Regions from separate parts of the Homo sapiens genome. Here regions 1, 2 and 4 are each linked to region 3. The links come from fine-mapping of genetic effects on gene expression. A gene starts in region 3. Each other region holds a variant in brackets. All regions are shown on one strand. Distances are between the middles of the regions. Region 1 holds the start of CHMP7 (charged multivesicular body protein 7). Region 2 overlaps TNFRSF10D (TNF receptor superfamily member 10d). Region 3 holds the start of TNFRSF10D (TNF receptor superfamily member 10d). Region 4 overlaps TNFRSF10A (TNF receptor superfamily member 10a).

What was found. PIP is the estimated chance that this variant, and not a neighbour inherited with it, causes the effect.
Region 1: its variant is fine-mapped to the expression of TNFRSF10D in whole blood (TOPMed, PIP 0.97).
Region 2: its variant is fine-mapped to the expression of TNFRSF10D in whole blood (TOPMed, PIP above 0.99).
Region 4: its variant is fine-mapped to the expression of TNFRSF10D in whole blood (TOPMed, PIP above 0.99).

The regions. Positions count from the first base shown.
Region 1 is chr8:23,240,025-23,248,129 of GRCh38, reverse strand. CHMP7 (charged multivesicular body protein 7) reads right to left here and starts at 4,493. Exons shown (of 11, transcript NM_152272.5): 1 at 4,286-4,493; 2 at 1,136-1,874. The coding sequence starts at 1,434. RefSeq lists enhancers at 628-677, 1,481-1,730, 4,300-4,801 and a silencer at 951-1,460. The variant G/A (reference allele first, on the strand shown) is at 4,618.
Region 2 is chr8:23,137,292-23,145,396 of GRCh38, reverse strand. TNFRSF10D (TNF receptor superfamily member 10d) reads left to right here. Exons shown (of 9, transcript NM_003840.5): 6 at 308-339; 7 at 762-947; 8 at 7,137-7,209; 9 at 7,394-8,105. The coding sequence ends at 7,527. Among named protein-coding and RNA genes, the nearest start is that of TNFRSF10D, 23 kb to the left of the region's middle. RefSeq lists an enhancer at 80-807. The variant G/T (reference allele first, on the strand shown) is at 3,895.
Region 3 is chr8:23,160,769-23,168,873 of GRCh38, reverse strand. TNFRSF10D (TNF receptor superfamily member 10d) reads left to right here and starts at 4,847. Exons shown (of 9, transcript NM_003840.5): 1 at 4,847-5,088. The coding sequence starts at 4,939. RefSeq lists a silencer at 221-401 and an enhancer at 4,990-5,109.
Region 4 is chr8:23,214,762-23,222,866 of GRCh38, reverse strand. All of the region lies in intron 1 of TNFRSF10A (TNF receptor superfamily member 10a), which reads left to right. Among named protein-coding and RNA genes, the nearest start is that of TNFRSF10A, 6.3 kb to the left of the region's middle. RefSeq lists enhancers at 3,108-3,167, 3,348-3,417, 4,448-4,647. The variant A/G (reference allele first, on the strand shown) is at 4,103.

The DNA of each region.
Region 1 (8,105 bases), 79 kb before region 3:
TCTCAGAAAGCCTCGTTGGCCAGGTGCAGTGGCTCAACGCCTGTAATCTTAACACTTTGGGAGGCTGAGGTGGGAGGATCGCTTGAGTGCAGGAGTTCGAGACCATCCTGGGCAATATCAATGTCCAGTCCAATGGGAAGGTACTGGGAACAAAAGTAGAGAAGGGAGATCTCTTAATCAGAAAGAGCAGCAAACTAAAAAAAAAAAAAAACCAACCAAACAAAAAACATCAGAGTTGACTTTCTCCTTCCCTCACTGAGAGAGGTATCACGCTAGGCTGGTCTCAGAATGATAAGTACACTGAAGTGCAAATGACTTATCCAAAGACCAGGGATCCAGTCCCGGTATCACCTTTAACTAGCTGTGTAACTCTGAGTAAGTCACTTGATCTCTCTGAAACTCAGTTTCCTCTTCTGTCTGCTGAGGATAATTCTATCACCTCACCACAAGACCGCTGAGTGGGTCAAATGGTGCATGCAAAGTATCTGCATGCTGGGAAGTACTGTACATGTATTAGTTATCAATGTTACCCTCAGATACCGCCAAAACTGCACCTGTCGCACACGTATCTCCTACAGACCTTTTAAGGGCACTCAGATACTCAGCAAAGCCCTCATTCTCCTTCACGTCCTCTCTGCTCCAAAAAGCCTGTGCCAAGGACAAGCCAGACGAATGAGCTGTGCCAGGGGTTGTTGGCAAGATGCCTACAGGCCTCTTCCCCACGAATGCCCGCTTTTTAGCTCTAACCTTCCCTAGGTTAATGAATCCTATCTCTTAGACCTTCTGCTCCACGGGCCATTCAAATTTGGAGGCCCTTAGGAAACAACAACATAACGGGGTCCCAGTCCAGGCAAATTACTGTCACCTCTGTTAGGCTGGCTTCTCTGGAACTCGTCTAATCGGACTATCCCCGCCCCCCAATCTTCCCCCAGATCCCCTCTTCCTCTCCCTCCAAGCCTCCCTAGCCCAGCCTCCTTATTTTCCTTCTTCGCCTTCTGAACACACACTGGATGCCTTCTCTGGGCCAGACACTGGGCTGGGCGCAGTGCGCTGTGCAGAGAACAGGACCAGGGCCCGGCCCTCCGAGAGCTGCCCCCGCCCGCCCTCGCGGCCCTGGCCCCAGCCCGCCCCTCACCGCAGCAGGTCCTGCAGCACCGTGGCCAGCCCCAGCGGGACGCTCCCCTTGCGCTGAAAGGCCTCCTGCAAGTCCCGCAGACGCAGGCGCACCACCCCCTGGCGGCGGCTGTGGCTCAGCACCAACGGCGCCCAGAAGCCCATCTTGCTGTCCCAGTCGGTGCTGTTCACCTCGCGACTCCTCTTGAAAGCGGAGAACAGGAAGGACATGCGCTCCTCGTCCTCCTCCCACTCGGGGGGCAGAAGGCCCGCCGGGTCTCCCCCGGCTGGGGCCTCGGCCTCCCGCTCCGGGGACCACATCGGAACCCCAGCCCCGGCAAGGCTGCGAACACAAGCCTGGCCCTGGTCCGCTTCCGCCCTCGTTCCCTCCCGGCTTCCGTTCCTTGACCACCTCCTTCTCGTTCACACGTCACCGCCGCCCTGAGCGTGAAATAAGTTCCATAAGTCTTCAAGGCGCATGCGTTGCGCTGCGCTCCGTCAGCCAGGAGGCAGTATGATGAAGTTCTTTTCAGAGAGACACCGAGCGCTTGCGCCGACCCCTCCTCCCACGGTCTTTGTGCCGAAAGAAAGGCTTGCGCCTGCGCGGCAGGTGGCTGCACCTTACGTCTCCTTCAAGATTCTGGAGTTCGGCAAAGCGTTGTACAGCGGCTTCTGACCTGTGGCTTCAGAAAATGGAACTGGGGAATAGCCGCAGAGGGGCGCCAGTGGTGCCCGGACCACCCGGATGGATCCGTGAATCTCTGTATAGAGGGAAATTTATATCAATGAATGCACAAACCAGAAAAGAAGAAAGATCTAAAATAACCTAAGATTCCACCTTGGGAATCTATAAAAGAAGAACAAATTAAGATCAAATTAAACAGAAGAGAAAAAATAATAAAAAGAGCAGAAATCAATGAAATTGAAAACAAACTCAAAAGATTATCAACAAAACCTAAAGCTGATTTTTTGAAAAGGTCAATGAAATTGATTAACCTCTAGCCTGGCTAACAAAGAGAAAAAACAAATACTCAATATCAGAAATGAAATAAGGGACATTACTGCAGATCCCATGGGCATGAAAATGATAATAAAGGAATACTATGAATAACTGTATGTCCACAAATTTGATAACCTAGACGAAATGGACACATTTCTTGAAAGCACACTCTGCCAAAACACACAAGAGGAAACAGACCACTTGAATATGTTTATATCTAATTAATTGAATCAATAATTAACAACATCCACACAGAAAGCATTAGGCCCAGATGGTTTCATTTGATAAGTTCTACCAAATATTTAAGAAAAAAGTTGTACCAGTTCTGTGCCATCTCTTTTATAAGATAGAAACAAAAGGAATACTTCCCAACTGATCCTATGAGGCAAGGATTACCCTAACGCCAAAACCACACAAAGACATTACAAGAAAGAAAAAACACAAAACAATATATCTTGTGAATATAGATGCAAAAATCATCAATAGAATGTTAGCAAATTGAAACCCACAATGTATCAAAAGAATTGTACACCAGGTTAAAGCGGAATTTATTACAGCTAGGCAAGGCTAGTTCAATGTTCAAAAATCAATTAATATAATCCACCAACAGACTAAAGAAAAATCATATGATCATATTGCTAGATGCAGAAAAAGCATTTGACAAAATCCAACACCAGCTCATGATAAAAAGTCTCGGCACTCTAGGAATAGAGGGACACATCCTCCACTTGATAAAGAACATAAACAGGAACCTTACAGCCAACATAAGAATTAATGGTGAAAACCTAGATCGTTTTCCAGTGGAATCAGGAATAACACAAGAATGTCTGCTCACACCATTCCTAGTCAACACTGTACGGGAAATCCTAGCTAACACAGTTAGCCAAGAAAAAGAAATAAAAGTTGTACAGACTGAAGAGGAAGAAATAAAATGGTCTGTCTTTATAGAAGACATAATTATCCATGCAGAAAATTATGAAAGAATTGCCAAATCGATGTCCTGGAACTAAGAGGCAATGAGAACAAGATTGCAGATACAAAGTTAATGTATAAAAGTCAATTCCCATATACCTATAATGATCAAGTGGAATATGAAATTAAAAATGCAATACCATTTACATTAGCACCCCCCTATAAAACTTAGGTATAAATCTAACACGGTATGTACAAATTCTACATAAGGAAAACTACAAAATTCTGATGAAAGAAATCTATGAAGGACTAAATAAATACAGAGGCATTTTATATTCATGGACAGGAAAACTCAATATTATCAAGATATCAATTCTTCCCAAATTGATCTGTAGATCCAGTGAAATCCCAGTGAAAATCATGGCTAGTTATTTTGTGGATATCAACAAACTAATTCTAAAGTTTATGTGGAAAGGCAAAAGACCCAGAAGAGCCAACACAATATTGAACAAATAAGTCAGAGGACGGATACAACCCAACTTCAAGAATTACTATAAATCAACAGTAATCAAGATAGTGTGGTATTAGTTAAAGAATAAACAAATAGATAAATGGAACAGAATAGGAATCCCAGAAATAGGCACATGTAAATACAGTCAACTGACCTTTCGAAAAAAGAAAGGCAATACAATGGTTCAAAGAGTCTTTTCAACAATGAGCACTGGAACAACTGTACACCTACATGCAAAAACAAAAACAAATCCAGGTACAGATCTTACACCATTCACAAAAGCCAGCTCAAATGGATCATGGACTTAAATGTAAAAACACAAAACAATAAAACTCCTAGAAGACAAAACATCTAGATGACCTTGGGCATCATGATTACTTTTTAGATACAACACAAAAAGCATAATCCATGAAAGAAATAATTGATAAATTAGACGTAATTATTATTATTATTATTATTTGCTTTCTGAAAGACACTGTGAAGAGAATGTGAAGATAAGCCACAGACTGGTAGAAACTATTTGCAAAAGACATCTCTGATAAAGGACTGTTATCCAAAACACACGAGGAACTCTTAAGACTCAAAAAAAAAAGAAAAAGAATAACCCAGTTAAAACATGGATAAAAGATCTGAGCAGACCTCTCACCAAAGAAGATCTACCAACGGCAAATAAGTATATGATAATATGCCCAACATCATATGTCATTGGGGAACAGCAAATTAGACAAGAATAGCATACTACTACACACCTATTAGAATGGTGAAAATCCAAAATACTGACCACACCAAATGCTGGTGAGGATGCAGAGCAACAGGAACTCTCATTCATTGCTGGTGGAAATGCAAACTGGTACAGCTACCGTAAGGTTGGCCAAGAGAAAAGACGAGTATACTCAAAGTCAGGCAAGCAAGTTTATTGACCTGCCGGCCTGCTGCATAACAGTCAGAGGAGGCAGCCCAGGGTGTTTAAGGTGAGGGACTTATATAGGGCTTTGAGGGCCTAGGGGCTTTCTGAGGTTAGTCTACATCCTGCAGTTGTTTGTCACTTCTTGCCCCACCTGGCTTAGAGTACCAGGATGTG[G/A]TTTGGCCTGGGGGTGGATACAGCTGTACCTAAGTTCTGGTAACGTGAAGTAGGGGCAGCATCTCAGAAGAAATAAGCTGCAGGGCATTTAGGGGAGGGGGCTTGCTGCGTTCTTCTGTGGACAGGTTGTCTCTAAGAGCTACTTTGGAAGACAGTTTGGTCGTTTTTCACAAAATTAAACATTCTCTTCCCATGCAAGTTTACTTATAGTTTAACTTTGAAACAAAGTATAACAGTCCTTTCCCAAAACAAAACTCCTTACTGCCTGTGGACTAGACTGCCTAGACTGCCACAAGATTAGAAGTTATGGTAATTTTACTAAATCAAGATGTAGCTATTTTCATTAAACCAGTATCAATGTCTTATTTATTAATGGTTACACGAGCAGAGATCATTCTGTCTTGGGCTGGGTTTATAGCCTGTGCCAAATTTTGACACCTAATAGTATTTGGCAGGGTTAAGTATGAAATTGCTTGATTAATAAACGCAAATAAAAATGTATGCTGGCAATTCCTAAGACATTTCTAATATTACTTTACCAATAATTTTAAAGATAGCTTATTTATTAAAGATTTTACTTAAGTCACATAACTTGAAAAAGCATTTGACTAGTCTTTCCTTTTTCTAATAAAGTATTTGATGTAAATGCTTTTATTTTTTAAGACAATTAATTAGAGCTCTTTGATATATTTTCAGGAGTGCAACATTGTATACATAACATATAAATACATAGATGTATTAGGCATGCTGATAGAAGAAGTACATCTTACAGATTCATAAAAACCTTTTTTCTTTATCTTAGACTTTCAGATTCTTGATAACCTGTTTCACAGTGCTAGGCAGTAGTCAGCTAAATAGTCTTAAATTTGCATATTAAAGGAAACAACTCAGGTGAAAGTCAGATAGCAAAATTTACATTATAAGGTCTGAAGAGAAATTCTGTGAGCTAGAGGGAAATTAAAACAGATTTAATTGCCAATTGAACATAAAATTATAGAAATTTATCACTGGATTGTATAAGGAGACCACTGTTATTTAGATAGGGACTACCAATTCTTTTTTAACTGGATCTCTGAGCTCTGGGCAGAGCCCACACTGAATCCTGGGTCTCCAAAAAGGGAGAATTATTATGAGGCTAGACCACATGATGCTTTTACAGTGCACTTAAAACATTTTTGTAAACAAAGCATTTCTAAGTGTCTAAACTATACTCTTTCTTAAAAACCCAAGAGTAGCCTCTGTTGCAATAACTATTTTAGTAAAAAAAAAAAAAAAAATCGAGTGGAAACAGAATTGAGTCAATTGAGAACAAAAAAAGTTTTTGCTCAAAAAAAGACAAGGTCCTAGCAGAGAAAAACAAAAACAAAACCATGAAGGCCTTTTAAATATGAACATGCACTTATGCACACATACACATACACATACATTTTAAATATTAGCTTTTAATTAAGTTGACTTTTAACTATTGAGTGTCTTTAAAAATAAAAAATCTTGGGCTGGGTGCAGTGGCTCATGCCTGTAATCCCAGGACTTTGGGAGGCCCAGGCGGGCGGATCATGAGGTCAGGAGATGGAGACCATCCTGGCTAACATGGTGAAACCCCGTCTCCACTAAAAATACAAAAATTAGCCGAGTGTGGTGGCACGCGCCTGTAGTCCCAGCTACTCAGGAGGCTGAGGCAGGAGAATCGCTTGAACCCGGGAGGCAGAGTTTGCAGTGAGCCAAGATCGTGCCACTGCACTCCAGCCTGGCGACAGAGCAAGACTCTGTCTCAAAAAAAAAAAATTCAAAATTTTATTATTATATTTCAGCTAGGACAAATTGCTGCTATTTCAGAAGTACCAAGTATTGGTCCGGCGCGGTGGCTCACACCTGTAATCCCAGCACTTTGGGAGGCCGACGCTGGTGGATCACCTGAGCTCAGGAGTTCGAGACCAGCTTGACCAACATGGAGAAACCCCATCTCTACTAAGAAATTCAAAAGGCACATGCCTATAATCCCAGCTACTCGGGAGGCTGAGGCAGGAGAATTGCTTGAACCCGGGAGGCGGAGGTTACGGTGAGCTGAGACCACGCCATTGGACTCCAGCCTGGGCAACAAGAACGGAACTCTGTCTCAAAAAAAAAAAAAAAAAAAAAAAAAAAGCAGAAGTACCAACTATCAAACCAGAAAGGACTTGATTTAGGAACCAAACTTAGGCTGTCATGAAGACAGGAGAAAAAAAAAGGCAGAACCTTAGCTATTGAACTGCAGAGTAGGGGGACAGCCATTGCTTTCAGTTTGGCCTGGTTAGCAAAAAGGAGGCTTTGTTATGTAAATAAAACCCCTTAAGTAATAAAAATAAAACATTTTTCTTGCCGGCCGGGTGCGGTGGCTCAAGCCAGTAATCCCAGCACTTTGGGAGGCCGAGGCAGGCAGATCACCAGGTCAGGAGATCCAGACCATCCTGGCTAACACGGTGAAACCCCGTCTCTACCAAAAAATACAAAAAAATTAGCCAGGCGTAGTGGCGGGTGCCTTAGTCCCAGCTACTCGGGAGGCTGAGGCAGGAGAATGGCGTGAACCCGGGAGGCAGAGCTTGCAGTGAGCCGAGATCGCGCCACTGCACTCCAGCCCGGGCGACAGAGAGCGACTCCGTCTCAAAAAAAAAAAAAAAAGTTTTTATTTATTTTTTTTCTTTTGTTGGCCGTTTTTCTCCCCTCACTATACCACCTTTTTTTGTGTATGGGAATTTAGCCACTTTAGAGGCCTTGTTCCTCATAATTTGGAACTTTCCTTCGGATTTGATTGAGTTGGACAGAGTTGGTCAAACCCAACGGGAGAAAGACTGAAACAACAAAAACAGAAACAAATAAACATCAACAACAACAAAAAAGTTAAGCAAAACAAACAATCTCACAACTTAACATAATTCCTGAGCACTGTAATGGTAAGGAGAAATAAAGACCAGCTGGTTTTTAATCTTAACTTTAGCCAAGATAAACCCCAATTCAGTTGCTTATCTAGGAATGGATCTCAGGCTGTAGACCACTCTCTACCATCCTAGAAGCAGAAAAACAAACAAAACAACAACAACAACAACAACAACAACAACAAACTCACCTTCCCTGTTGGAAGTGAGCTCAAACTCCATAAAGGAGTTACCTATCTTCCATCATCATGGAAGCAGGAAAACTTGCCTTTCTTGTTGGAAGCAAGTAAAACTCCAAAAAAAAAAAGTTGTATAGCAAAATAAACTTTAGATTTCAACCAAATTTGGGAAGATAGTAATTCTCTTGGTGGGGCGGAGGGGTGAGGGGTGGGTTGCTCTCAGACCTCAGCAAATTGTCCCATAGGTTTGAGCCATAAAGTAAGCTCATGCTGGTACCAAGCACCAATAGGTGCTTGTCAAATCTAGCTTGTCAGAGGCTAGATTTGTCAGAGGTGGGGAGCATTCCACTCAGAATCCCTTTATGGTTATTAAATATGGGCCCAGAATATCTGAGAC
Region 2 (8,105 bases), 23 kb after region 3:
CAGGCAGGGGGCAGTCAGCTCCTCAACTGGGTGACAAGGGTCAGGATGAGAAGTGGTCGTGGGATTTATTCAGCCTTGGTCAGAGCAGAACACAGAGATTTTCCACGTGTTGGTTTTTACTCTAGTTCCCCTTCTCATCCCCCTTCCTCAGGGTGTCCCCTAATTGCAAGGCCCCATTCTGTCCCCAGCCCCAGGGCTCCTTGTCCAGTGTCCCAGCCCCCAGCCAGCCCTGCGCCCCACTGTCCTCTGGGAGGGAGGTGCTGCATGGGCCCCTCCCCGCCTGCTCAGGAGACTGCTTCTTTTCCAGGTGGTGGAGGAGGTCCCGAACGTGTGCACAGAGTGAGTTGGTTTCTCCAGAAACTGGGGGCTTCGTGGGTTCAGGAACTGCTTCCCATCCACTGCCGAGCCTGGGTGGGCACAATCCCTTGTCCTCATGGCTGCCCTGACTCTCTGACATGGCCTGGGGGATCTGGGCTGACTGTGGGGGACACACGGCCATTTTGAGCAGCACACAGACCAGCAGGCCGTGCTGCAGCCCTGTCCTTCCTGCAGCCTCGGTGACACCATCACTCCACAGCTGGCCCCATGGGGATGGGGTGACCACCTGACCCACCTCAGCATGGGGTCCTGGATGTGCTGAGCCTCAGCTGCCTGGGGTGACCTCATTGGAAGGGGTTGGGGATGGCAGGTCCAGCTGTGTACTGGGGACCCTGAAGCTGAGCCCGGGGTGTGGACTTGAGTGGGCTCTTTGTCTTCCCAAGGTCCTTTTCCGGCGGCGTTCATGTCCTTCACGAGTTCCTGGGGCGGAGGACAATGCCCGCAACGAGACCCTGAGTAACAGATACTTGCAGCCCACCCAGGTCTCTGAGCAGGAAATCCAAGGTCAGGAGCTGGCAGAGCTAACAGGTGTGACTGTAGAGTTGCCAGAGGAGCCACAGCGTCTGCTGGTGAGTTGAGGAGGGACTGTGCCCTGCCTGGCGTGCAGCCTGCACAGGACTTTGTAGACAGTGGGACATGGCAGTGCCTCCTCTTTCCTGGCCCAAGGGGACATGGAGCCTTTGGGAGACAGGGGACTGCAGGGGACGGAGCAGCTGCACTGAGGTGGTGACCGTGCCAGTCTGCAGGACATCTGCTTCTTACTCCCTGTCCTGTCCTTGCTGTGTCCCCAGAGCCTGGATCTCCACAGGCATAGAGTGGGTGTCACAGGGTTCACTGAGGACTGAATAAGGCTGCACAGTCTCCATCGTGTGCTCCTAACAGAAGTCAGGGAGCCCTTGCTTGAAACAGCGGAAGTTTTAAATGTTCTTCAAAATTCTTACTACATTGAACATATTTCACAGTAAATCTTTGTCCAGATTTCTGATCAAGTATGTAAGGAGGCTTCTGGGAAGAAGTAGGATTTCTGAGTCAGTGTGTAGAAGTGCTTTTGTATTACAGAAACACACACATCCAGTTATTCACATCGATTCACTAGTTTTGATATGACATTGAGTAGGTGTGAAATCTGGACACACATTTGTTTTTTTTTAAGTTCTTTCCTTCAGGATAAAATAAGATGATCCTACCTAATTTTTTGTGGACTTTTAAAGAATGATTTGGTTTGTAGCATACACCAGTGGAACGTAGGTGCCATTTCTTTTGTGATGCTGTGTGAAGTGAGGAATTCCCTGAATTGTTGTGAGTCACTGTCTCCTTCCTCCACGCCTGTTTAGGAACTGATTCTCCTATTTTTCTCTGCTTTTGGCTCCTCTTTGATCACTTGTCAAATACTTACCTAGACAAGGTTCACTTTCCACCCATTTTCTTCCTTTCCTATAACTATACCCCATTTTTTTTAATGAAGGGAAGTATAAAAAGGTAAGGAAATAAACAAAAAATATCAACAATTACTCCACGCTGCTGAATCGCATTGCACCTTTGTTTTGTAATTTGTAGAGATCTGATCTTGCTATGTTGCCCAGGCTGGTCTCAAACTCCTGGCCTCAAGTCATCCTCTCACCTTGGCCTCCCAAAGTGGTGGGATTACAGGCATAAGCCACTGCACCTGGCCGCGCTGCACATTTTTTGAAAGTGGTAAATGCAGAGCCACACATCTGCCACACTATAGAAAGGTGCTCAGTCGGCCGGGCGCCGTGGCTCATGCCTGTAATCCCAGCACTTTGGGAGGCCGAGGAGGGTGGATCACAAGGTCAAGAGATGGAGACCATCCTGGCCAACATGGTGAAACCCCACCTCTACTAAAAATACAAAAAATTAGCCGGGCGTGGTAGCGGGTGCCTGTAGTCCCAGCTACTCGGGAGGCTGAGGCAGGAGAATGGCGTGAACCCGTGAGGCGGAGCCTGCAGTGAGCCGAGATCACGCCACTGCACTCCAGCCTGGGCTACAGAGTCAGACTCCATCTCAAAACAAAAACAAAAACAAAAAAAAAACAAAGGTGCTGAGTCATAGTGGTAGTCCCCTAACACTTCCTCCAGCCCCCAGCCCTTCTTCATTCAGGTGAATACAACAGATAATTTCTTGTGATTCTTTGTAGAAATCTTTATGCATATGCCATGTATATTCATACAAGCGTATGTACATTTTGTTTACATTACAGGGATTACTTTACATATAATACACTGCCAAGGAAACTTTTTTTCATTTTTTATTTTTCCTTTTTCAAATTTATTTTGATTCAGGGGGTACATATGTAAGTTTGTTTGATGCTGAAATTTGAGGTATGAATGATTTTATCCAGGTTGTGGGCACAGTATCCAACAGTTAGTTTTTCACCCCTTCCTCCTCTCGCTCCCTCCCCGCCCTGGTAGTCCCCAGTGTCTATTGTTGCCATCTTTATGGTCGTAAGTACCTGATGTTTAGCTACTACTTATAAATGAGAACACGCAGTATTTGGTTTTGCGTTCCTACATTAATTCACTTAGGATGATGGCCTCCAGCTTCATCCATGTGGCTGCAAACAATATGATTTCATTCTTTTTTATGGCTGTGTGGTAACCTATGGTGTATATATGCCACATTGTCTTCATCCAATCCACTGTTGATGGGAACCTAGGTTGATTCCATGTCACTGCTATTATGGATAGTGGTGTCTTTTGGTAGAATGATTTGTTTTCCCTTTTTTTTTTTGAGAGGGAGTCTCGCTCTGTCACCCAGGCTGGAGTGCAGTGGCACAATCTCGGCTCACTGCAACCTCCGCCCCTCCAGGTTTAAGCAGTTCTCTGCCTCAGCCTCCAGAGTAGCTGGGATTACAGGCATGTGCCACCATACCCGGCTAATTTTTTGTATTTTTAGTAGAGACGGGGTTTCACCGTCTTGGGCAGGCTGGTCTTGAATTCCTGACCTCGTGATCCATCCACCTCGGCCTCCCAAAGTGCTGGGATTACAGGTGTGAGCCACCGCGCCCAGCAGATTTGTTTTCTTTTCTATGTATACCCAGTAGTGGGTTTGCTGTGTTAAATAGTAGTTGTTTTAAAATTCTTTGAGAAATCTCCAAACTCCTTTCCATACTGGCTGAACTAATTTACATTCCCACCAAAAGTATATAAATGATCCTTTTTCTTCATAGTCTCGCCAGCATTTACTGTTACTGGCTTTTTAATAATCGCCATTCTCACTGTATGAGATGGTATCCCACTGTAGTTTTGATTTGCATTTCTCTGATGATTCATGATGATGAGCATTTTTTCATATGTTTGTTGGCCACTTGTATGTCTTCTTTTGAGACATGTGTGTTCATGTCTTTTGCCCATTTTTAATGGGGTTGTTTTCTGTGTGTTCATTTAAGTTGCATATGGCTCCTGAATATTAGACCTTTGTCAGATGCATAGTTTGTAAATATTTTCTCCCATTCTGTAGGTTGTCTGTTACTCTGTTGATACTTTTTTTTTTTTTTGA[G/T]ATGTACTCTCGCTCTGTCACCTAGGCTGGAATTCAGTGGCATGATCTCAGCTCACTGCAACCTCCGCCTCCCGGGTTCAAGTGATTCTCCCTCCTCAGCCCCCCTAGTTGCTGGGATTGCAGGCACGTGCCACCATGCCCAGCTAATTTTTGTATTTTTAGTAGAGATGGGGTTTTGTCTTGTTGGTCAGGCTGGTCTCGAACTCCTAACCTCAGGTGATCTGCCTGCCTCGTCCTCTCAAAGTGCTGGTATTATAAGTGTGAGCCCCCACACCCGGCCTGTGGAGAGTTTCTTCTGCTGTGCAGAAGGTCTTTAGTTCAATTAGATGCCACTTGACAATTTTTGTTTTTATTGCATTGCTTTTGAGGACTTAATCATAAATTCTTTGCCATGGCTGATGTCCAGAGGGGTGTTTTCTAGGTTTTCTTCTAGAATTCTTATAGTTCATGGTCTTACCTTTAAACTTTTAATCTACCTTGAGTTAATTTGTGTATATGGTGAAAAGTAGGGGTCTAGTTTTCGTTGTTCTGCATATGGCTAGCCAAATATCCGAAGCATCAGCTGTTGAATGGGGAGTTGTATTATTCCATTTTCATACTGCTATGAAGAAATACTTGAGACTGGGTAATTTATAAAGAAAAAGAGGTTTAATGGACTCACAGTTCCACATGGCTGGGGAGGCCTCACAATCATGGCCTGAGGTGAAAGATGAGCAAAGGCACATCTTACATGGCGACAGGCAAGAGAGCGTGTGCAGGGGACTGCTCTTTATAAAACCATCAGCTCTTGTGAGTCTTATTCACTATCACAAGAACAGAACTGGAAAAACCAGTCCACGTGATTCAGTTACTTCCAATAATTTTTTCCAATTCTGTGGAAAATGACATTGGTAATTTGATAGGAGTAGTATTAAATCTGTAGATTGATTTCAGCAGTATGCCCATTTTAGCCATATTAATTCTTCCAATCCATGAGCATGGAATGTTTTTCCATTTGTTCATGTTATCTATGATTTCTTTTAGCAGTGTTTTGTAATTCTCTTAGAGATCTTTCACATCCTTGGGTAGAGGTATTTCTAGGTATTGTGTGTGTGTGTGTGTGTGTGTGTGTGTGTGTGTGTGTGTGTCTGTTGTAAATGGGATTGTGTTATTGATTTGGTCCTCAGCCTGAACATTATTGGTATATAGATATGCTACTGATTTTTTTTCTTTTTGAGACAGAGTCTTGCTCTGTCACCCAGGCTGGAGTGCAGTGGCGCGATCTCAGCTCACTGCAAGCTCCACCTCCCAGGTTCACGCCATTCTCCTGCCTCAGCCTCCCCAGCAGCTGGGATTACAGGCGCACACTGCCACGCCTGGTTAGTTTTTTGTATTTTTAGTAGAGGTGGGGTTTCACCGTGTTAGCCAGGATGGTCTCGATCTCCTGACCTTGTGATCCGCCCTCCTTGGCCTCCCAAAGTGCTGAGATTACAGGCGTGAGCCACCGTACCCAGCTACGCCCCGTTAATTTTTGTATTCTTTAGTAGAGACGGGGTTTCACCATGTTGGTCGTGCTGGTCTTGAACTCTTGACATCGTGATCCGCCTGCCTCGGCCTCCCAAAGTGCTGGGATTACAGGTGTGAGCCACGGTGCCCGGTGCTACTGATTTTTATACATTGATTTTGTATCCTGAAATTTTGCTGAAGTCGTTTATTAGTTCCAGGGGCCTTTTGGTGGAGTATTTAGGGTTTCCAAGGTATAGAATCATATCGTCCATGAAGAGTTTTCACTTCTTCATTTCATATCTGGATGCCTTTTCTTTCTTTCTCTTGCCTGAGTGCTCTGACTAGGACTTCCAGTACTATGTTGAATGGGAGTGGTGAGCGTGAGCATCCTTGCCTTGTTCCAGTTCTCAAGGGGAATGCTTCCAGCTTTGGCCCATTCAGTATGATGTTGGCTGTGGGTTTGTCATAGATGGCTCTTACCATTTTGAGGCATGTTCCAATGGGAACTTTCTAATGTTTTTTAACATCCAAAAGAGCAAACACCTCTTCCATACTTTTTCAAAATGTATTATTTTACCCAGATAAAATTTAGAATTAAAAGATTTCCTCCATCCTTCCCTCCCGAAAAACCTCAGTTGCCGTTTTATCAATTCGCTTTAAAATTAAAAATTAATCTAGAAACACTGAATATTTTATTAATATTCAGTATTTCCTTATCAAAGGAGATAACATTTGGTGTCAAGTATTTTATTGTAACTGAGTTGTGATTTGTGTTCCTCTTCAAATAAATTATTCCTGTTTCTTATGGCTGTTTAGTATTTTGTATCCATTATGAGTTGGATAACCTTGTAATTCTGTTTGCTAATTTATTGCATTTGCTATGTTTTTAACATTCCTCCAGACATACATTTCTATTTCAATATTGTAGTTTCATCTTAGGGGTTTTAAATGACGTTGAAAATAATGATTATTGTGTCTGCCCTCTTCCAAAAGTCTTGCCTCATTTTAATTTTCCATCTTGTTGCCTAGGCCAGACCTTTCAGAACAATATTCAGCTGTGCTTAGGGAAGGCAGGTGTTTGGGTCCTGATTTGATTTCTGGGGAAGGCCTCCAAAGTGTCACTCTTAGCAATGGCATTCACTTTTGGTTTCATATAGAAATTCTCATCATCAAGAACACAGCTTACTATTCTAAAAGGGTTTGAAAAAAATCAGAATTGCTGTTTAATTTTACCAAATGTCTTTCCAGCCTCCATAGAGACTGCCATTTTATTTAATTACGCTATTGATATGGTAGAGTACTGATGATCAAAGATCATTTACAGTCTTGGGATAAATCATTTTGTTAGGTTTTCCTGGGTGCTCTCATATATAGTCTGCCGAGACTCTGCTGGTAAGAATTCTGGAAGGAAGTGATCATTTCTTGTGAGGGTGGGTGGGAGTTGATTAGATGGGGCAGAAGGGGACTTTCTGGGGTGTGGCAGTTTCTATGTCTTGATCAGGGGATAATTACACAGGCCTATAGTCAAAGTTGGTCAGAACACTTACAAAGTGAGCATTTACTGCATGTCACTTATGTCTCAATGAGCCACCAGCACACAGAGCCCAAGAGCTATGGAGGACCAGAGGTTTGTCTCCATCTCCATGGAGACCCAAGAGGGAAAGCGCTGCAGGTCTCTTGCTGGCTAGTGGTCAGGGTCAGTACTAGACTGCAGGACTCCTGACTCTGACCAGAGCATTCCCCACTGTGTGTTACAGGAACAGGCAGAAGCTGAAGGGTGTCAGAGGAGGAGGCTGCTGGTTCCAGTGAATGACGCTGACTCCGCTGACAGTAAGTGTTTTGTGCCTTGAGACGCAGCAGGAGGACAGGGAATAGGGACGGTGTCCTAACTGCTGTCCCTATAGCTGAGAGGGCTCTTCTGGAGGTTTCACTGCTGGAAGCAGGGGGCCCCATGTCGATCCTGTGCTGATCGTCCTTGGAGCATTGAGACCCTAAATCTCTTCTCTCTTCTCAGTCAGCACCTTGCTGGATGCCTCGGCAACACTGGAAGAAGGACATGCAAAGGAAACAATTCAGGACCAACTGGTGGGCTCCGAAAAGCTCTTTTATGAAGAAGATGAGGCAGGCTCTGCTACGTCCTGCCTGTGAAAGAATCTCTTCAGGAAACCAGAGCTTCCCTCATTTACCTTTTCTCCTACAAAGGGAAGCAGCCTGGAAGAAACAGTCCAGTACTTGACCCATGCCCCAACAAACTCTACTATCCAATATGGGGCAGCTTACCAATGGTCCTAGAACTTTGTTAACGCACTTGGAGTAATTTTTATGAAATACTGCGTGTGATAAGCAAACGGGAGAAATTTATATCAGATTCTTGGCTGCATAGTTATACGATTGTGTATTAAGGGTCGTTTTAGGCCACATGCGGTGGCTCATGCCTGTAATCCCAGCACTTTGATAGGCTGAGGCAGGTGGATTGCTTGAGCTCGGGAGTTTGAGACCAGCCTCATCAACACAGTGAAACTCCATCTCAATTTAAAAAGAAAAAAAGTGGTTTTAGGATGTCATTCTTTGCAGTTCTTCATCATGAGACAAGTCTTTTTTTCTGCTTCTTATATTGCAAGCTCCATCTCTACTGGTGTGTGCATTTAATGACATCTAACTACAGATGCCGCACAGCCACAATGCTTTGCCTTATAGTTTTTTAACTTTAGAACGGGATTATCTTG
Region 3 (8,105 bases):
CGGTGGCTCATGCCTGTAATCTCAGCACTTATGGGAGGCCAAGGTGGGTAGATCACCTGAGGTCAGGAGTTTGAGACCAGCCTGACGAACATAGTGAAACCCTGTCTCTGCTAAAAATACAAAAATTAGCTGGGCATGGTGGCGGGGGCCTGTAGTCCCAGGTACTCAGGAGGCATCACTTGAACCTGGGAGGCGGAGGTTGCAGTGAGCCGAGATCATGCCATTGCACTACAGCCTGGGTGACAGAGTGAGACTGTGTCTCAAAAAAACCCAACAACAACAACAAAATGACAGTCATTATACTAGCATCCTCCCCACCCCCTCATCCCCAGATCCACTGGAAAAATGGAGGAAAGTCTGGTGGGGACACTCCTTTAGCCCACTCGTGTGGAGTAGGGGCACACACCAGTGAAGGTGTGGAAGCCAGCCCTTCATGCCTGTGTCTCCCCCCATTTTAGACAATCAATGTTTCAGTTGACTGTTCCGCTTCCCTATCAAATTATTACTCTAAGGAGGATATCTCTCTGCCCATTGCTAAACATTATGCACTGAACAGCCTGTTTCTCGGTCCAAGGAAGTTCGGTTTAGTGGTCCAAACTAGAATAATACCTTCTTTCAGTTCTTTTATATTAATAGCACTCTGGGCATTTGCAGCCTCCACCAGGTAAGGAAAAGACAATCCACAGTCAGTTTCTGTTGCTGTCGAGACTCACCTGTACCCCCCAGGGCACTGCCCTCAGTCTCACTTTCCAAGTATGTTGAGGGCCTCCTCATCAGGGAATCTGCCTCATAGCTATAGGCAGTCTCTGTCTCTCCCGCTGCTAGACAGAACAGCTCTTATTGGTGTCATGTGCCTGAGAGAGAGCAAGAGGAATGTGTTTCGATTCAGCCCATCTCTGCGTCACTGTGGTTCCCCCATATCCACTTCTTTTGCTTCGTGGCCTCTGGTGACCACCTCAAGGGAGTACACGGGGGTATCTCTTGCTGATTACAGTCACTTTCTAAACCTGAGGGTGGGTTCTACTGACCAGCATGGGCGTGTCTTACTTTAATGCACTCCTCAAGCTCCCCTAGAGATTTCCATAGGGTCGGGCCTCATATGGACATCCCTACACTAGGTCAGTTTCCCCTTACTCTTGGAAACAATGGAAAATGTAGAGACGAATATCCAAATTTAATACCCTTTATTTGGAAAGTAAGAATTGCAATTCTTGGCATACACAAAGACCAAGTTGTCTTTGGTACGTCCAAAGAACAAAGAGAAGTTTGGAAGTTTTTTTTTTTTTTTGAGACGGAGTCTGGCTCCGTTGCCCAGGCTGGAGTGCAGTGGCGTGATCTCCGCTCACTGCAAGCTCCGCCCCCTGGGTTCATGCCATGCTCCTGCCTCAGCCTCCCGAGTAGCTGGGACTACAGGTGCCCGCCACCACGCCCGGCTAATTATTTTGTATTTTTAGTAGAGACCGGGTTTCACAGTGTTTGCCAGGATGGTCTCGATCTCCTGACCTCGTGATCCGCCTGCCTCGGCCTCCCAAAGTGCTGGGATTACAGGTGTGAGCCACCGCACACGGCCAGATGTTTTTTTTTAAATGAGAAATACTAAGTATTTTTTTTTGCAGAAAGTTCATTGGCGCTGTAAAATTTGAAGAAGTGGCATGCTCTGACTGGTGAGTGACTGCAGTGGGTCAGGCTGGTCTTAGAGCAGCAGCTGGTTGTGTCAATAGATATAAGACAGAACTATTAATAGTTTCACGTTACAGCTGCCAGACTTACAGAGAATTGCAGTTTGGGGGTAATACAGTGATTTTTCTTCCCCATGGCCTCTTGACTCTGTTTTAGTTGGGTGTGACAAGAATGACCCAATTTGTGCGATCAACTTTCACATTCTCCTTCCCAACTCTATGACCGGGACATTGACGACTGTCCATGAGCCAGAAAAAAACTCAAGTACAGGGGCTTTTGCTGCTGTTCAAATCTTCCATAAGGCTAGGAAAATAGCATGCAATCCAACCCACCTAGCCAATTTGCCTTTGCCTTCTTCCATCAGAGGGGTGGCCTTCCAAGTAGGATGTTGTCCATTCATCTAGGAATGACTGTCTACAAACTAAGTAGCTCTTGGTCAGTAAGTAAAGAGCTGTGTATAGGGCAATGTCCAAGTGACCACAGAATCCAGCAGCTCCTCACCCAGTTCCAGACTCAGTCTGAGGGGAACAGAGGCTCCCTGCTCATGAGTGTCTCCTCTTTGCCTTCCTCAGGCACCAGGATCCCATATCAACCATTTCCATTTTTTAGGCTGAGTGAGGTGGCTCACGCCTGTAATCCCAGCACTTTGGGAGGCTGAGGCGGGTGGATCACGAGGTCAAGAGATCGAGACCATCCGGGCCAACATGAAGATCCCTCGTCTCTACTGAAAATTCAAAAATTAGCCAGGCGTGGTGGCATGTGCCTGTAATCCCACCTACTCGGGAGGCTGAGGCAGGAGAATCGCTTGAACCCAGGAGGCAGAGGTTGCAGTGAGCCTGGATCGTGCTGCACTCCAACCTGGCAACAGAGTGAGACTCCATCTCAAAAAAAAAAAATCCATTTTGTAATAGAACTCTTCTGGGACTGGCCTCCCCGTTAGAGCTTTTCCAAGATTCCTGAAGACATCATCAGTTTTTCAGGTTTCAAGATTATTTTATGTCCTTCAGTGACAGGGGAGACTTCAGTTAGTGTTCCATCTCAAGCTAGTAAGTGCCTCTTAAGTGGAAACTTGACTCTAAAGGCCCAGTTCCTTGGAGGTGCTCACAGCCTTTTGCCATTAGCCCTAGTCAGTGCTCCACACAGGGCACAGAGAATGCGTTGTTACCTGCAGTCTGGTTTCTGGTCTATACTGTGTGGTCCACCCTCCAGGGCCAAGGGAGCTAAGGTGCTCTAAGGACTTTCCTGCAGGCCCTGGTGGCTCTGTGTTAATGCTGTCAGTCTTCCTGAAGTCCCTGACCTTTCACCTCCTGCCTGGATCTGCACCCCGCACACATTCCTGACCCCACACATTTCTCATTGCCTGGGTCCTGGCACACATTTCTGACCCTAGCTCAGTGTCTGGGGCCTGGCACACATTTCCGACCCTAGCTCAGTGCCTGGGGCCTGACACACATTTCTGACCCTAGCTCAGTGCCTGGGGCCTGACACACATTTCTGAGTCTAGCTCAGTGCCTGGAACCTGGCACACATTTCTGACCCTAGCTCAGTGCCTGGAACCTGGCGCACATTTCTGACCCTAGCTCAGTGCCTGGGGCCTGACACACATTTCTGACCCTAGCTCAGTGCCTGGGGCCTGACACACATTTCTGAGTCTAGCTCAGTGCCTGAAACCTGGCGCACATTTCTGACCCTAGCTCAGTGCCTGGGACCTGGCACACATTTTTTTTTCTTTTTTTTTTTTTTCACAGAGTCTCGCTCTGTCACCCAGACTGGAGTGCAGTGGCACGAATCTCGGCTCACTGCAACCTCCATTTCCTGGGTTCAAGCAATTCTCCTGCCTCAGCTTCCTGAGTAGCTGGGATTACAAGTGCCCGCCACCACGCCCAGCTAATTTTTGTATTTTTAGTAGAGATGGGGTTTAACTATGTTGGCCAGGCTGGTCTCGAACTCCTGACCTCTTGATTCGCCCACCTCAGCCTCTCAAAGTGCTGGGACTACAAGCGTGAGCAACCGCGCCCGGCCCTGGCTCACATTTCTGACCCTAGGTCATTGTCTGGGCCCTGGAAGGTGCTCAGGGTGATCCATCGCTCAAATCCAAGCCTGTGGAGAGGATGACATTTCATTCCCAGGTTTCTCATGAGCCAAAAAACCTTCATTTCTATAGCGCTATCCTCTTCTATCTACCATGTGAGGGGTCAGGAGCCGACTCATCCCAAGGGTCTAGGAGTCCTGCCATTGACCTTACTGCTTAGGGTCACAAGCTGGCACCCTTCAAAACCACACATTGGGTCTGCCCTCACAGCGGCAGTGTGTTCAACTGGATGGGGAGGTAAGTAGCCCAAGGTCAGACAGTTGGACCTGGGTAGACAATAGACTTGGGGACAGACTTTGGAAGGCACTCCCCTGATTCCCCTGTCTCCATGGGGCCTCAATACTAGAGCCCTCAAGGTTGGTCAGGGAGTGTTTGTGCTTTGACCATGCAAAGGGTGCCAGGTTGTGGCTAGGGATGCCCCCGGCGTTCCTCTCCCTCCTACCTACTCCTCAGCCTCTGCAGGTGCCTGTCATGGCCTCTGTGTCCTTCATTCTGTCCACTCATGTGTTCACTGGGCCCCTCCTTGGTGCCAGGCACCCGCTACTGAGGGATACCAAGCCCCTGCCAGAGAAGCTTGGAGCTGGGTCACAGCAGCAAGGAGGCTGGAGACATCAGTGGCATCAGTGCACTGGTCAGTGAGGCCGCTGTGGGAGGAGGGAGTGGGAGCAGAAGCTAAGAGTGGACTGAAGTCCTGAGGCCAGGAAGTAGTTCAGGGTTTAAGAAGAGGAGAGACAGGCGGCCCGGGGAGGGAGCAGGCTCAGGATGGGCCTCCAGTGCCTCCTCTGGAGCTCACTACCCAGACTACAGCAGCGCAGCGGGCAGCGCCTCAGCTCCTTCCCCTTCTGCTGCCTACAGCCTGGACAGGACCCGGAATCAAACCGCAGGCCCTGGGTCACCGCTGCCGGAAAGAGCCAGTTCCTGTCCGTCCATGCACCCACCCACACAACCTGGGCCCTCCTGGAGGTGCTGGGGGAGACCCAGCCTGAGTGCCTGGAAGTGACTGCGGGAAGGGAGTACAACTGACCACGCCTTTTTTCCGGGGTATAAAAGCGGAGGAGCACGTTCTATTCTGGCAGTGTAGCTGCGAGAACCTTTGCACGCGCACAAACTACGGGGACGATTTCTGATTGATTTTTGGCGCTTTCGATCCACCCTCCTCCCTTCTCATGGGACTTTGGGGACAAAGCGTCCCGACCGCCTCGAGCGCTCGAGCAGGGCGCTATCCAGGAGCCAGGACAGCGTCGGGAACCAGACCATGGCTCCTGGACCCCAAGATCCTTAAGTTCGTCGTCTTCATCGTCGCGGTTCTGCTGCCGGTGAGTCTCCGCCGCGGTCCCTGGCTGGGGAAGAGCGCACCTGGCGCCGGGAGTGGGCAGGGAGAGAGGGGGACACGGTGGGGATGCTTGGCCCGGGTCGCCTGCGGCCGGGCATGTCTGGGCAGGACGAACCCGCCGTCGGAGTCAGGGGAAGAGTGGGGTGCCCGGGCTGGGCAGGAGCGACCGGGCCGCGAGGGAGCAGAGCGCGCGCTCCCCCTGGCTGTCCCGTGCGGCGAGGACCGCACTGAGCTGCCCCAGAGGAAGTTCCAGAATCAGCGGAGGGAGGGAGTCAAGATGGAAACCCCGGAGTGAACCTCAGGAAGCCACAGAGCGGTTGCCTCTTTCGTTCGTTCGTTCGTTCGTTCGTTCATAACGTTAACCCAGGCCGGTCGCGGTGGCTCACGCCTGTAATCCCAGCACGTTGGGAGGCCGAGGCGGGCGGATCACCTGAGGTCAGGAGTTGGAGACCAGCCTAGCCACCATGGTGAAACCCCGTCTCTACTAAAAATACAAAAATTAGCCGGACGTGATGGCGGTCGCCTGTAATCCCAGCTACTCGGGAGGCTGAGGCAGAAGGAGAATCACTTGAATCCGGGAGGCGGAGGTTGCAGTGAGCCGAGATCGCGCCATCGCACTCCAGCCTGGTCAACAAGAGCGAGACTCCGTCTCAAAAAAAAAAAAAAAAAAAAAAAAAAAGTTAGCCAGGCGTGGCAGCCTGCGCCTGTAGTCCCAGCTACTCAGGAGGCTGAGGCAGGAGAACTGCTTGAACCCGGGAGGCAGAGGTTGCAGTGAGCCGAGATTGCACCACTGCACTCCAGCCTGGGCGACAGAGCGAGACTCTGCCTTAACAAAAACAGACAAACAAACAAACAAAATTAACCCTATGTTTACACTGTTACACGTGTTTCTTGGAGATCAGTTTAACAAACAGCCTGTGAAAAAGCTTTCCAACGCTGTTTTTTGTAACTTTCATTTCCTATAGAACCCTGAAAGTGGCAGGAAGCGGTTAACCAAGGTGCTTGCAGTCAGTGTCTTCCACTGCCACCCGTGTGTCCCCTCTGTATCCCATAGGCAGGACCGCGGGATGGCCCCTTCCTTAGGCATAAAAGATGTAAAGTTCTCGTTGTGAGTTGGGTTTGGAAACTGAGATTGGTAGTGGGGTGCACAAGAAGGACATAAAAATAAGATGTGCAGACTGCCAGGACTTTTTCTGAGTGACTGACGTTTCTGCCAACAGTGCTTTCTAAGGTTTCTTACGTAATACCAAAAAACAAAACGGGGAGGATAAAACAAGATTACATGAACCATGAGAGTCTCCATGTTTTCTTTCAACGAAGTAATACTAAATTCAGAACAGCAGTGACATTTTCACCTCTCAAAAATTACACAACTGACTTCTACAATAGTTTATAGTGGGTGGACCTACCTGAGGCAGCTAGAAGAATGGCTGTGTCAGGACAGTGGCCCTGAAGAGAGAATGTGTGGATGACCTGTGTAGACAAGACCAGCAACCTGAATTTCACAGTTTTGGGAATGTGAACTCTATGCGTCCCAAAGGAGGCTTTGATCCCTCCATCAATCTTGCCTTATTAAATGCATTTCAATGCACAGTTGCTTTTTAAAATTTTGGAGCTAGCACAAATCACATTAGATGTTTTATGGCAGTACATTCAGATTGATTTTCTTTTAAACAAGGGTATTGTATTTTACTACATGGGTAAGCCACAGGTTAATTCACTGTTGCCATCTAGAGGCAGCTGGTTATATCCCATCCCGATGGGATATAACCCAAAGCAAATTTGCCTTTGCTAATTCCAACAGCATTGTACTAAATACCCTTGTATGTATCGTGTGTCCACATGTCCATGCGCACCAGCTTATTGGGCAACTCCTTAGAAGTAGAATTTTACTTCTACTTCCGTGGGATAAATCATTTCAGAAGTTTCTTTAGATGTTTACGAATTTTCTTCCAAAAGACCATTGAACTCAGCTTACACTCACACCTAGTTCACACATGTGCCTGTATCCCTACACCCTTGTTACACTTAGCTTTCATTCGTTGCTAGTCTAGGAAGTAAAAGGTGATTCATCACATTGTTATGTACTTTCATTCCTTAATGGTATTAGGAATTTTCAAGGATACGGGAGTTTTGGTAGTGGGAGTAGATGACCGGGGGATCCAGATGAGACAGCAGGGGAGGGTGGCAGGGAAGACTGAATTCCCAGCTGTGAACTTGGAGAACCGTGGTCAGCTGGGGCCAGTCCCTGCCACCTGCCACGCCTGTAAATGGAGATAAGGTCTCCATCTTCAGGCTGTCAGGAGGACATCAGATGAGCCTGGAGCTGAGCTCAGTTCCTGACCCCAGGTCCTGGCTCTGTCAGCGTTGGACTGTTCCAATCTGTGTGACAGAGGCTTCCGCCCCGCCCTTCTCTTTATCAAAGTAGGAATCGAAAAGATCCAACGGCCCAGAATCTCGGACTCTGAGGCTCTCAAGGACTCCTGAGATTGGAGGCTGGGAACAGCTGGGCCCTGCTGTGCTTCCCCTCCAGCTCTGTGACACTGGTGTGGCCCCAGCTCCTGCCTGTAAAGTGAAGAGGAGATAAAAATCTTCAGCAGCCCTGTGTAAACCTCAGAGGGCTGTGTTAGCAGGTGTGGGAGGATGAACCACATCCTCAGGGCTGGTGTCAGTCACTCCGGACTGGATCCCCAGGGCACATGTCCTCCACCCAGCAGAGGCTGCACCTGTTCCTACTTGCACCTCCATACCAGGCTCCCTGGCCTTGGGGCAGAAGCTTCTGAAGACTGGGGTGGAGCACCATGTGGAGGGGCCATCGAGGAACAGAGGAGCCAGAGTTCAAGTGAGGACAGCGATGGCACTGCAGGGCCACAGCCTGGTTTACCTGCCAAGTTTCCAGTTGTGCTTCTGGTGGGTGTCCGGCCCGGGTTGGAGTTTGAAGATGAGCAGGAAAGGTCTCCATCCAGGTGGCTGCAGATGGCTGCTCACCCAGCCCCTACT
Region 4 (8,105 bases), 54 kb before region 3:
TCCGGAAGGGAGACGGGGAGGGGCCAGGTTCATTCTAACAACCAGGTGTCATGGGGAACTAAGATTGACAACTCCTGGGGGAATGTGGGAGGGGGCGGTTATGGCACCAAGCCTTTCATGAGGGATCCACCCCAAACCCCAACAGGCCCCACCAGCTACATTACGGTTCAGATTTCAACGTGAGCCCTGGCAGGGACAAAGGACCCGTAGCAGACACCAAGGCCTTCTGCCATCCCACAGGACCCTCTCATCCCACCATCCCTCAGCCTTCTTCCTGTGCATTTATAGGCACCTTAACTTTTAAAATTCTGACTGAAGAACAAATCGCATTGGATGTTTTCTATCAGTACATGCAAGTATCTCATTCTTTTTAACAGCATCATAATATTTAGTGCATGGGTGAAACACATGGCGTGAACCACAGTTAATTTTAATCTTCCATCCCATGGGCAATTGTTAACATTATGTCCTGCTTTTGTTTTTTCTAATTCCAGCAGCATTGTAGTGAGAACCCTTGTATGTGTCATATGTCCATATGTCAATGTTCCCTGAAGTATCGGGCAGCCCTTTAGAAGAGGAATTTTTAGGTACATGAGCTCATCAATGTAGAATTTTGTTTGGATATTGCTAAATTGTACTTCGGGAGAAGATTGTGCCAGTTTTACTCTCACACCAAGAATACAAAAGTGTGGCCGGGTGCGGTGGCTAACGCCTGTAATCCCAGCACTTTGGGAGGCCGAGACAGGTGGATCACGAGGTCAGGAGATCCAGACCATCCTGGCTAACACGGTGAAACCCCGTCTCTACTAAAAATTGAAAAAAATTAGCCAGGCACGGTGGCGGGCGCCTGTAGTCCCAGCTACTCGGGAGGCTGAGGCAGGAGAATGGCGTGAACCCGGGAGGCAGAGCTTGCAGTGAGCCGAGATCTCGCCACTGCACTCCAGCCTGGGCGACTGAGCGAGACTCCGTTTCAAGAAAAAAAAAAAAGAATACACAAGCGTGCCCGTGTCCCTGCACCCTTACTACATGGAACTTTCATTCTTTGCTACTCTAAGAGGTAAAAAATGATAGACCTCAATGTTGTATTTTTTGTTTCAGTGTTATTAGAGATTTTCAAGGATCCAGGAATTTTTTGAGACTGGGAGTAGATGACCTAGAGACTCCAGATTAGACCGTTGGGGAGGGAGCAGGGAAGACTGCAGTCGCACCTCTGCACTTAGGAAACTGTGGTCGGCTGGGGCCAGTTCCTGCCACCCGCCATGCCTGTGAATGGAGATAATGTCTCTGTCCTCAGACTGTCAGGATGACATCAGATGAGCCTGGAGCTGAGCTCAGTTTCTCACCCCAGGTCCTGGCTCTGTCAATGCTGGACTGGCCCAATCTCTGTGCCAGGTCCTTCCACCTCGTCTCGTCTCTCTCTTTATCAAAGTAGGAAATGAGAAATTCTGATGGCTCTGAAGCTTAGACACTCAGGCTATCAGAGCCCAGAGATTGGAGGCTGAAGACAGCCAGGGTTGGCCGTGCTCCTCTTCAGCTCTGTGACTCTGCTGTGGCCCCAGCTCCTTCCTATAAACTAGGTGGATATAAAAGTCTGCAGCGGCCCTGTGTAAACCACAGTGGTCTGTGTTGGCAGATGTGTGCTGTCGTGTGGGAGGACAAATCACATGCTCAGGGCTGGTGTCAGTCACTCAGGACTCTGGATCCCCAGAGCACCTGTCCTCTACCCAGCAGAGGCTGCACCTGCTCCCACCTGCACCTCCATACTGGCTCTCTGAGCTTGGGGCAGAAGGTTCTAAGGAATGGGGTGGAGCGCCATGGGGAGGGGCCGTGGAGGAACAGAGGAGCCAGACTTCAAGTTAGGACAAAGATGTCACTGCAGGGCCACAGCCTGGCTTACCTGCCACGTTTCCTTCCAGTTGTCCTTCTGGTGGGCACCCGGCACTGGTTGCAGTTTGAAGAGTGAGCAGGAAAGGTCTCCATCCATGTGGCTGCAGATGGCTGCTCACCCAGCCCCTACTGAGAGGCAACAGTCCCAGTTCTGGTCCTCTGTCCTGTATCCAGGAGTGACAGGGCAGCAAGGCTTTAGCTTCCAGGTCGGAGATGGGGACAGTGCCATGCCCTGAGCCTGTGCTGTTGGGCAGTTGGTGTCACTTAGTCTGGAAAAATGCCAGTGCCTTCAGTTCTCTTTCAAGTTCATTAGGACAGGTGCCCTGGGGATCCAGAGTCATGAGTGACTGACACCAGCCCTGAGCATGTGATTTGTCCTCCTACACGGCAGCACACATCTGCCAACACAGACCACTGTGGTTTATAAAGGGCCGCTGCAGATTTTATATCTGCCTAGTTTATAGGAAGGAGCTGGGGCCACAGCAGAGTCACAGCTGAAGAGGAGCACGGCCAACCCTGGCAGTCTTCAGCCTCCAATCTCTGGGCTCTTTGATAGCCTGAGTGTCTAAGCTTCAGAGCCTTCAGAATTTCTCAATTTCTACTTTGCTAAAGAGAGAGGTGAGGTGGAAGGACCTGGCATAGAGATTGGGCCAGCCCAGCCAGAGACTGCACATCTTCATTCAGGGTATTTTCCTAACCCAGGGATGTGGGGATTGTTGCTCTCATTTTGTCTGGGGAGAAAATGAGATTTAGGAGGAGGAAGTCCCCAGCATTTGGGACCTGGCCTGCTTGATAATAGCAGCTGCCTGTTGGACTGGGAAGGGCCTCTTCCGGATTCCCAGGCAGGTATCTGTGATAATGGGGAAAGGAGAAAGGGTCTGCTTTGTAGGGAAGAGCAGGGTGCACTCGGCACCTCAGACACTCGCCTGTGGCCAGGAGGGGATGTGAATCATCACATTTTACAGAGGAGAGGACCAAAGCTCAGAGAGGGAAAGTGTGTGCAGCTCAGAGGGGGAACGTGTGTGCACCTGGCCACAGGCAAGTCTGTCCAGAGCACTGGTAGGAATGAGAGAAACTAGGAATGACCACTTTAAAAACTTAGATGAAGAGAATCTCAAAGTTAAGTCATTGGAGTTTGTTGGTAATATATTTGTGTGGCTTAGGTCATGTTAAGTGCATCACACCCTCGCCCCCATGTCTGCTGTTGGTCTCAGCACTGGGTGGAGGGAGCGGGGACAGTCCTGATGAAGAGGAGAGGGGAGCAGCACCGGCTGGGGTGGGGCCTCTGCCGCTGCCTCTTCCTGTGTGGTTTTTCAGGGCTTAGGCTGCGCCTCTCACCTGGCTTGTCTGTGGGGAGGAGATCTTTGTTCTCTGGCTGCTTTTAAGATTTTCTCCTTAACAGTGTGGTTTCAGCACTTCGATGGTGGCAAAAATAATCTGCCGGAGCCATGTCTGTAGCATTTTTGGTCTCCCCTTCTGTATAATAGCAGCCGTGTTTTGGCTTCTGCAGGGCTAAAGTCCTCTGAGCAGCTGCTTCTCCACATCTCTGCCCTGCACTTGGCCTCTGGGAGCTCCTAGGGTTCCTTAGCAGAGTCCACAGGACTCTTCGGGGTCCCATCCCTGTGCTGTAGCCTGGAACCTGTGACCTGAGGCGGTGAGCTGAGGCCACCACTGGGCTCACCTCATGGGCTTGGAGGGAAAGTCACTCACCCAGGAAGTAGGTGATGAGCACTTTACTCTGAGAATGTCTGCGCCTGGTGGTGGTGGGAGGACAAATGAGCCCTGTGTCAGTCCTGCTCCCTGAAGCCCACAGTCTGGTGGAGGAGGTGTCACTAGGGACCTAAATAACTATCAGGAAGCATGGGGGCCACCTCCCCCACCCCCCACCTCCAGAGAGGCTGTGCCGGCTCCAGGGATGCCATCCCTCCCTACTTGACTCCAGCAGTTGCAAGGCCCCAGGTCATGGTATTGGTGGCTTAGAGGATGTGGTTTCATTAAAATCAACATTGAGGGGAATGATTGTACTAACAACAGCATGTGCTGAAATACAGTACTTGCGTGTGCCAAGCTCTGTTCTTAGCACTTCATATGTAAATGAACACACTTAATCCTCATACAACCAGACTGTACAGGAACCCTCATTGTCTTTGTTTTAGACAAACAGCATGAGACTCAGAACATTTGTTCAGTAGAGGGGCTGGGCAGGAGGATGAGC[A/G]ACCCTCGGGGCAGCAGCAGTGATTGGGTCACTGGGTTCTGCTGACCTTTCCCAGGGGAGTATTTGGTGCTTTTTCATGAGGCCTGCATTCACCCAGCGCTGGGTCACTGCTGGGGGTACCTGAGAAGTCATGTAAAGCCACCTCTTATTTCCAGAATGATAGACATGTTTAGAGAAGAAGTGGCTTCCCCCAGACCATGAGGCTGGCCCGAGACTACAAGACAGATGGCTTGCTTCTTAACCCAGGGGTCTTTTTATACCAAAAGAACAAAGAAATAAAAAAGCCACGAAAGACTCAAAGGAAGCAGATTTTCGACCACAGCCAACCTCAGAACAATTCTGAGTTGCTCATTTTAAGATCAATAAGGCATTTTTTTAGGGTGTGTATGCCTGAGAGAGGAAATCAGTGTGAATATCAAACTTACCTCTGAAACAGCCTAACACAATGCTAATCCGAGAGGAACAAGGCAAGGAAACCCCCTGGTGAATGACTCATCTCAGGAAGAGGCAGGGCAGGGTCAGGAGAGTCTATGGAGGAGAAGACCTGGAACAAGACCTCTCTCTCTTGCTCTCTTTCTCTCTCTCCCTCTCTCTCTCTCACACACACAAACACACACACAACCTCACACCCCCATGAGCCCAAATCTGTGAACTGAGAACCTCACTTCTCTGACCTCACCTTCCATCTCCCTTAATCAGACGCCCACAAACCTCAGAGTTGTGTCCCAGCATCACTTGTTTTGACTGCCCTCCCCGACTGCCTTGACTTCGTATCTGCCTAGGAACCTGCCTGTGTGGACTTTTCCCTCTATGTGGACCTTTCCCTCTATGTCTACCGGTGTCCCTGCCACCAGTGGCATTTGTCACCTCTGCCTGGGCAGCCCCTCGTGACTCGGGTTATTGATGGCTGTGCCTCATCTCCCTGGGAACTGGAACTGTCCTAAGGAAAGGGAGGGTCGTGCCTTTTTCTTGATACCCCACGATTCCTTGCACAGCGTTTCTACCAGGCGCCGACATGCCCTCCTTGGATGAATGAGTAACATGGGTTCTAGGAAGCCCGCACCAATGCAGATGTGACGTCCTCAGCCTTTCATAGACATGTTTCATGTGAGAGGTGGGAAGAACAGCTGAACAGAAGGCTGAGCACTGTCCAGGTCCAGAGTCACCAGGAGCTCGTTGTCAGGTTTTCACTTGCTATTAGTAGAGATTTTTTTTTAAGGTACTATTTTTAGTGTTAGAAGTGAATTCAGGCCGGGCGCAGTGGCTCACCCCTGTAATCCCAGCACTTCGGGAGGCTGAGGTGGGCAGATCACGAGGTCAAGGAGATCGAGACCATCCTGACCAACATGGTGAAACCCCATCTCTACTAAAAATACAAAAATTAGCTGGGTGTGGTGGCATTTGCCTGTAATCTCAGCTACTGGGGAGGGCTGAGGCAGGAGAATCACTTGAACCAGGGATTCGGAGGTTGCAGTGAGCAGAGATTGTGCCACTGCACTCCAGCCTGGCAACAGAGCAAGACTCCGTCTCAAAAAAGAAAAAAAAAATGAATTCATCAGAAGGCATAATAATCATAAATGTGTATATGTCTAATAGTAGAGCTTTAAAATAAATGAAGCAACGCTCAAAAGGATTAAAGGGAGATCATGTCACCCCCTTCTCAGCAACTGATAGAACGATCAGATGAAAACAGTAAAATAACAGATCTGAACATTGTCAACCACCTTGACTTAACTGACATTTATAGAGCATATATGCAACATCTATGGGAGATTCCTTCTCTTCTATGAACATGGTACTTCACCAAGATAGACCACATTGTGAACTATAAAACAAATCTAAATACATTTAAAACAAAATAATATAAAATATGTTCTCTGATCTCAATGAAATTAAAGTGTTAAGCAATAACAATATCTAGAAGGACTCCAAAAATGTGAATATTAAGCAACATACTTATAAATAACTCATAGTTCACGAATGAAATCAAAGAGAATTCAAAATATTTCTTTTTTTTTTTTTTGAATTGGCTTCTTGCTCTGTCGCCTAGGCTGGAATGCAGTGGCGTGATCCCGGTTCACTGCAACCTCTGCCTCCCGGGTTCAAGTGATTCTCCTGTCTCAGCCTCCCGAGTAGCTGGGACTATAGGCACCTGCCAGCACGCCCGGCTCATTTTTGTATTTTTAGTACAGATAGGGTTTCACCATGTTGCACAGGCTGGTCTTGAACTCCTGACCTCGTGATCCACCCACCTCGGCCTCCCAAAGTGCTGGGATTACAGGCGTGAGCCACCGTGCCTGGCCTGGAGTTTCTTTTGGGGATGATGATGAAAATCTTCAAAAATTGATTTTATTGATGGTTATACACTTCTATAAATATATTTAAAGGAAAGAATTACATCATATATAAAGTATATCTCAGTAAAGTTCTTAAGGATTAAAAGAAGAATGGTATCAAAATCAATGACTCAGAGGTGTGCATTACTTACCCGTAAAATAAGTATAAATTAAACTCAAAGGTAGTAACAACATGACAAGGAAATAATAAGACTGAAATCAATGAAATAGAATTCAAACAATAAAAGGAATCAACAAGCTAAGAGTTGGTTCTCAGAAATGATCAACAAAATTAATAAAAGTAATAAACTGGCCGGACGAGATGGCTCATCCCTGTAATCCCAGCACTTTGGGAGGCCGAGGCAGGCGATTCACCTGAGGTCTGGAGTTTGAGACCAGCCGGACCAACATGGAGAAACCCCATCTCTACTAAAAATACAAAATTAGCCAGGCGTGGTGGCACATGCCTGTAATCCCAGCTACTCCGGAGGCTGAGGCAGGAGAATCGCTTGAACCCAGGAGACCGAGGTTGCAGTGAGCCGAGATCACGCCACTGCACTCCAGCCTGGGCAACAAGAGTAAAACTCCATCTCAGGAAAAAAAAAAAAAAGTAATAAACCAAACTTTAAAAGAAAAAAAGAACAACAGCATGAAATACCAATATCAAGAATTAATGATGGGATGTTATTACAAACTCTACAGCCATTAAAAGGAAAATAGTGGGATCTTATGAATAACTTTATGCCAATCAATTTGACAACTTGGATTAAATAGACAAATTTCTTAAAAAACACTACTTAGCAAAATAGCCACAAGAAATAAAGATAATTTAAATATTCCTAAAGCTGTCTATGAATTGGAATTCATTGTTTGTTTTGTTTGTTTATTTATTTATTTATTTATTTAGTTATGCTATTTTTTGAGTCGGAGTCTCGCTCTGTCATGCAGGCCGGGGTGCAGTGGTGCAATCTCAGCTCACTGGAACCTCCGCCTCCTGGGTTCAAGTGATTCTCCTGCCTCAGCCTCTGGAGTAGCTGGGATTACAGGTGCCCACCACCACGCCCAGCATATTTTTAGTAGAGACGGGGTTTCACCATGTTGGCCAGGCTGGTCTTGAACTCCTGACCTCAGGTGGTCGCCCACTTTGGCCTCCCAAAGTGCTGGGATTACAGGCGTGAGCCACGGCGCCCGGCCCCCCTGCTCTTCCTTTTCTAATTTAACTTTCTAATTTAAAAAATCTCCCAATTACAGAAAAGATGCAAAAATTATACTATACCCTTTACTTTGAACCACCTGAGAGCAAGCTACCCACAGAACGCACATCACCCTTATACACTTGAGTGGATATTTCCAACAAATAAGGACATTCTCCCGTATAACCACAATACAATCCTCAATATCAGACAGTAAGCATCAGTACATTACTACCAGCTAATCCTCAGACCCCAATGGTTTTCACTTGTCTTTATAATGTAATTTATTGCACAGAAATCCTGTCCTGAATAACTATACTGCTCTTTCATCTTTTTCTGACTCTAGTATTTCATGGGACATTGGCAGGCTGTTTTGGGGGACAGTTTGTAAAGTGCCTTTTTAAACCTGAAGTTCATTATTTAATATTTGATTCAGTATCCTGCTTTTTAAAAAATTTACACATCACCTAACCC